Regions from separate parts of the Homo sapiens genome. Here region 1 is linked to region 2. The links come from fine-mapping of genetic effects on gene expression. A gene starts in region 2. The other region holds a variant in brackets. All regions are shown on one strand. Distances are from middle to middle.

What was found. PIP is the estimated chance that this variant, and not a neighbour inherited with it, causes the effect. A credible set is the group of variants that fine-mapping cannot tell apart.
Region 1: its variant is the best candidate, but not a certain one, in a credible set for the expression of SLC25A23 in whole blood (INTERVAL, PIP 0.62).

What each region holds. Positions count from the first base shown.
Region 1 is chr19:6,409,475-6,412,380 of GRCh38, forward strand. It overlaps the pseudogene LOC390877. Among named protein-coding and RNA genes, the nearest start is that of MIR3940, 5.6 kb to the right of the region's middle. RefSeq lists an enhancer at 2,223-2,906. The variant C/CCTCT (reference allele first, on the strand shown) is at 1,664.
Region 2 is chr19:6,458,079-6,460,984 of GRCh38, forward strand. It overlaps SLC25A23 (solute carrier family 25 member 23), which reads right to left and starts at 1,714. Exons shown (of 10, transcript NM_024103.3): 1 at 1,395-1,714; 2 at 120-246. The coding sequence starts at 1,550. RefSeq lists silencers at 1,466-1,525, 1,576-1,715, 2,226-2,405.

The sequences.
Region 1 (2,906 bases), 49 kb before region 2:
TTAACTTTGCCATATATCCATCCAGAATATCTCACATCAGTGTCAAGAGATATTCCTTGTTTCTTTTTTTACAGCTGTGTAGTATTCCATTGTGTGGCCACGCCATTGTATATTCAGCTAATCTCCTATGGGCAATAAATTACTTTCAATCCTTTGCCACTACAGACAATGCCACATTAAATAATAACCTTTGCATGTCATTTCACCTTTTTGCTAGTATCCTTGAAATAGATTAGGAGTGGAATTGCTGGATTAAAGAGAAATGCATAATTTTGCTAGCCATCACCAGATTCCTCTTCATTTTACATTTACAGTGAGACCTACAGAACATGCTGCCAAGGTTTTGGATTTTTGTCAACCTGTGTAGGTGAGAAGTGGTATTTCAGTGTGGTTGTAATGAGCATTTCTCTGGCTACAATTGAGTTTTAATATCTTTTGCAAAGTTTAAGGGCCAAGCTGGGCACAGGGACACATACCTGTAGTCCTAGCTATTCAGGAGGCTGAGGTGGGAGATCGCTTGAGCCCAGGAGTTCAGGGCTGCAGTGAGCTATGATCTTGCCACTACACTCCAGCCCAGGCAACAGAGTGAGACCCTGTCTCTAAAAATACAAAAAGTTTGAAAGGTGTTTTGTTGTCTTCTTCAGTAAACTCTTTCTCTCTCTCTCTCTCTCTATATATATATATATATATATTTTTTTTTTTTTTCTGACAGGTTGTTGGCTTTTTCCTTTCTTCTTTTCTTTTCTTTTTTTTTGAGGCAGAGTCTTGCTGTGTTGCCCAGGCTGGAGTGCAGTGGTGTGATCTCTGCTCACTGCAACCTCTGCCTCCCGGGTTCAAGCGATTCTCCTGCTTCAGCCTCCCGAGTTGCTGGGACTATAGGCGTGCACCACCACGCCCGGATAATTTTCGTATTTTTAGTAGAGATGGGGTTTCACTGTGTTGGCCAGGTTGGGCTGGAACTCCTCACCTCAAGTGATCCACCCACCTCAGCCTCCCAAAGTGCTGGGATTACAGGCGTGAGCCATCATGCTTGGCCATTGCATCACATTTGGATCACATGACAATTATAAACTAGTTTGGGAAGACTCAGCTCCTTTATAATGTTGAGTCTTTCTATCCAAGAATATATATCTGATCCTTCTGTGCAAGTATCCTTTTGAGTCACTTAAGAATATTTTACTTTTTAGGCTGGGCGCGGTGGCTCATGCCTGTAATCCCAGCACTTTGGGAGGCTGAGGTGGGCAGATCACCTGAGCTCAGGAGTTCGAGACTACCCTGGCCAACATGGCGAAACCCCGTTCCTACTAAAAATACAAAAATTAGCTGGGCGTGGTGGTGGCTGCCTGTAATCCCAGCTACTTGGGAAGCTGAGGCAGGAGAATTGCTTGAACCTGGGAGACGGAGGTTGCGGCGAGCCGAGATCGCGCCACCGCACTCCAGCCTGGTTGACAGAGCAAGACTCTGTTTCAAGGAAAAAAAAAAAAAAAAGAGGAGGAAAAAAGTATTAGAACCATATTTGCTTGCAGTGTGCATGCCTCATAGCTTTCGAAGGAGACACAGGAGCAGGTAACTAGGCTGCCTCCAGGGAGAGTGACCCTGGGTGGTTGGAGATGGCGAGATGCTTCACTGTGTGTGTGTGTGTGTTTGGCAGTGAATGTCCTGT[C/CCTCT]CTCTCCAAAAAGTAAATACGTAAAACTTGAGCTAGAAAAATAAAACAAGGTTGGGCATGGTGGCTCACGCCTATAATCCCAGCACTGTGGGAGGCCAAGACGGGAGGATCACCTGAGGTTAGGAGTTCGAGACTAGCCTGACCAACATGGCAAAATCCCGTCTCTACTAAAAGTACAAAAATCAGCTGGGTGTGGTGGTGTGCACCTGTAATGCCAGCTACTTGGGAGGCTGAGCCAGGAGAATTGCTTGAACCTGGGAGGAGGTGGTTGCCGTGAGCTGAGATCGTGCTATTGCACTCCAGCCTGTGCGACAGAGTGGGACTCCATCTCAATAAATAAATAAATAAATAAATAAATAAATAAATAAATAAATAAAACAGACCAGGGTGGCCTGATTATTCCTTACGTGCCCAAATAAATAAATAAATAAATAAATAAATAAATAAATAAAACAGACCAGGGTGGCCTGATTATTTCTTACCTGCCCACGTAATCCTAGATACCTGGTTTCTGGGGAAGCCGGGGTTCTGGAGCCACTGTGCCTGGTCCCTCCACACCCAGCCCCCTTGTTCGGGTTCCTAGGTGGGCCAGGCCCCCAGCGTCGTCATCGTGTTTGACTGCTCCATGGAGACGATGCTCCGACGAGTGCTACACTGGGGCCAGGTGGAGCACCGGGCAGACGACTCGGAGCTGGCCATCCACCAGCGCTTGGACACGCACTATACCTTGTGTGAGCCGGTCTTGACCTACCAGCGCAATAACCTGCTCTGAAACGTAGGTGCTCCCCGCTTCTGGCTCACTGCACCCCAACCCCTAGGGAACAAGTCTGGCTTTAACAGTCCAGGGTCACCCGGGCCTGGTCCTCGCTTTCCTACCAGGTAACCTGGGGGATTCCCATTCCCCCAGGAAATGCCTTGAGAACCCAGCCTTGGCTCACGTGGGAAGGCAATGGGACACTGGTGGGGCCTCCCTGCACGCCCTCACACAGCAGTCAGCAACACAAGCTTTCCTGACCCTGTCCCCTCTCCCTTCACGTGCATGCCTCTGGGATTTTCCCAGGGTCTGAGCGGGAGAGGGTGGTGTCCCTGCCGTGGGGCCCAGACCTGACCCCTGCGGCTCCCCTTTCTCTAGATCCCGGCAGAAGCAGCACCAGAGAACATCTTTGCCAAGTGCTGCTCTGTCATTGAGAGTCTGCAGTGAGACAGAGGGGCTGGGGGTGGGCCTTGCCCCTCACCGGAACCC
Region 2 (2,906 bases):
TCGGGGAGAAGCGGCCCTCCCCCTCTCCTCCTAGCGCTGCCAGTTCTAACCCCACTGATGTCTCTAGGGCCCCCACAGCCCTATCCCTTGGGGCCTGCAGGCAGGTCGCCCGACCTTACCATCCTGGTTCCGGTCAAGACTGTGAAACATGAGCAGCAGACGCTGTTCCCGCTCCTGCAGATAGCGGGAAAATTCCTCCAGGTCGAGCCCGCCATCTGGGTCAGCATCACCCTCAGAGGAGATACCCTGACAGAGGGAAAGGGGATAGAGGTGGCTCCAGGAACCTGCTCCTGATCTGGAGGGGACGCATGTCACCTTATGCCTTAGGAACCCAGAGCCCCCAGCGCCTTGAGGAAGGGGATAGAAGACGTCACCCCACTTCTCCCTCAGTCAGCTAACTTCTCAGCCAGATCCCTACAGCCACCACAGGTCTGTGCGGTGGGTGTGAGTGGTCTAGTTTTCCTGGTGAGCAAACTGAGGCTCTGCAAGGTCAAGTCACCAGTTCAAGGTCACAGAACCAGGAAATGGTAACCTCAGTTCTCATCTGTAAAGCCTGTCCTTCCAGCTGTCTCTTGTTTTTAGTTTTTGTTATTTTTTTAGGTATCTCATTCCTGTTGAACCCAGCTGCCTCTTAAAAAACCCTGTCCACATGGGGGACCCAGGGGTTCCCTTTGGAGGAAGCCCTGGGCGATGTGGGGCAGGAGAGAACCAAGCGGAGTGGCTGAGGCCTTGGTTTTTCCCATTTGGGAAGTGGGAGGTTGGACTGCTCTCAGGGTTGCTGTGGTTCTCTTAGAGCGATCTGGGGCTACAGGTGTGGGAAGGACCTGCAAAGTGGAGGTGGGGGCAGCGGGAGGAAAGTCTTGTTATAGGTGCATTCCCAGCTGCGGGTGACCGCAGACAGGATTGGGTCCCTGGCTGGGGCAGCCCGGGACAGTGAGCCAGGCCCGTGAACGGCCCATGAAAGGGCAGGCCAGGGAATGTAAACACAGGGATCGGGGCAGCTGCAGGCCAGGGCAGTAGGTGCCCAGAGGATGGAGGGTGTGTCTCCTGGAGGTGAGAGCAGGGCACGTCATGGGCTGTGCAGTCTGGAGGAGGGTGTGTCCCGGGCAGTGGGCAGGAAAGCGCCCCCATCTCTTCCCAGGCAGACGCCCCCTGCCCCGCAGCAGGGGGATCGGGTGTTGGCCGCGGAACTGCAGGCTTGGGGCCTCGGCGTCCCTGTCTTGAGCGATCCCGTTAGGCCAAACACGAGTGGGTAGGGGGAACGAGACAGAGACACAGGTTCTGGAGTCCAGCCACAGGTAGTCCCTGGTGGCTCCGGCCGCCCAGTTCAGGGGCTTGGGTAACCGGGAGCGGGCGGGGCCGGGAGGGGAGGAGGTCCCTGGGGGTGGGGGTACCTGTTGGGCGCCGGGGTCTGGGTTGCCCCCGCCCAGCCTGGCCAGCCCCTGGCGCAACTCGTGCACGTCCACGCGGCCATCCTTGTTACTGTCCAGCTCCTCGAACAGGCGACCCCAGCGCTGCCGCCGCTCCGCGTCGCCCGGGCTCCCCCGCATGGCGCCCGCCCGGGGGGGAGGGGAGGCCCGGCAGCGGCGGCCTCAGTGGGGGCTTCGCGGCTCCCCCTCCCCCCCCGGGACCCCGCAGGGTCAGCTCCCGCGGCCGCCGGCTCCGCAGCCTCCGCGCAGTCCGCTCGGCTCTGGCACTTGCGGGAGGTGGTGACGGCTAGCCGTCGCCGCCCGCGCCAGAACTTGCGTCTCCTCCCCCGACCTGCATTGGGGGGAGGGGACCGAGGGCGGAGCTGGGGGCGTGGGGAGGGAATGTCTGGGATGGTCTGGTATTGCACAGCCGAGGAACACCAGAGTTCCTTCTGGGAAGACGGGCTAGGGAGCTCAGTGGTCTCAGGTCTGGTTTCAGAGTTCCGCCTCTGCGTGCCTCAGTTTACCCTTTCCCCCTTTGCCCAAGGGGGCAAGGTAGAGCGCTGTCGGGGATTGGGTTTCATAATCCCCTTCCACTTGACCTCCCCGCCACACCCACTAATCTTCAGGAACTCAAGTTCTCGCTTTTCCCAGACGCACGCAAGAACCGTGCACCATCTCGCTCGCTCTCTGCCCGCCCGCGCCTTACACCTTCCCCGCTCGGCCGCAGAAACAGAAGATCCAGGAGCGATGCTCTCCCACTGTCCCTTCTTCCCGCCCGCGCGCTTCCTTTCTCGGTTCCCACTCTGACTGGGAAACAGAAAATCAACGCGCGGCGCGGCTGCAAAGTCGGTTTCCTATTGGTCAGCGCCTCCTGGGCTGAGCCCGCCCGCCCCGCCTCTTCTCCCACCTAGGCGGGGCCTCCCCGCAGACCCCCGACTGCCTCCAGCCCGCAGTCCCACCGCCTGCCAGGAGATCTTAAAGGGGCCGCGGCCGCAATCAGACGCTGAGCGGCGTGGGGAGGGGGTGGCTCAGTGACCCGGGCGCGGGGTTGAGGATCCCAGTGGTCGAGCGCTGGAGGCAGGGCCCCAGCCTGTCGCACTCGCTGCACCTGCGGAATGTCCCTACTGCTAGTTTCGGGCGCAGTTTCTCGATCCACCATTAGGGGGAAGGGAGCCCAGACCACTTGACAGCGAATACTCGATAACAAATCTCACTTTGATTCAGTGCTTTGCACATGCCAGGGCTTTTACTCACCTCTCGAGTCGTCTTTGCCAAAACCCTATAAGGTAGGTGGTACTGGCGTTCGCACTTTGCAGATAAGGAAGCGGAGGTTAAGTCATTCTCCCCAGTCCTGATGACCACTAAGGGGCAAAACAGGGTTTAAAGAGATCTGGGATCCTTAACCATCACTCTATACCCTAGAAAGAATTAATTATCTTTTTTTTTTTTTTTTTTTTGAAACGGAGTTTCGCTGTTGTTGCTCAGGCTGGAGTG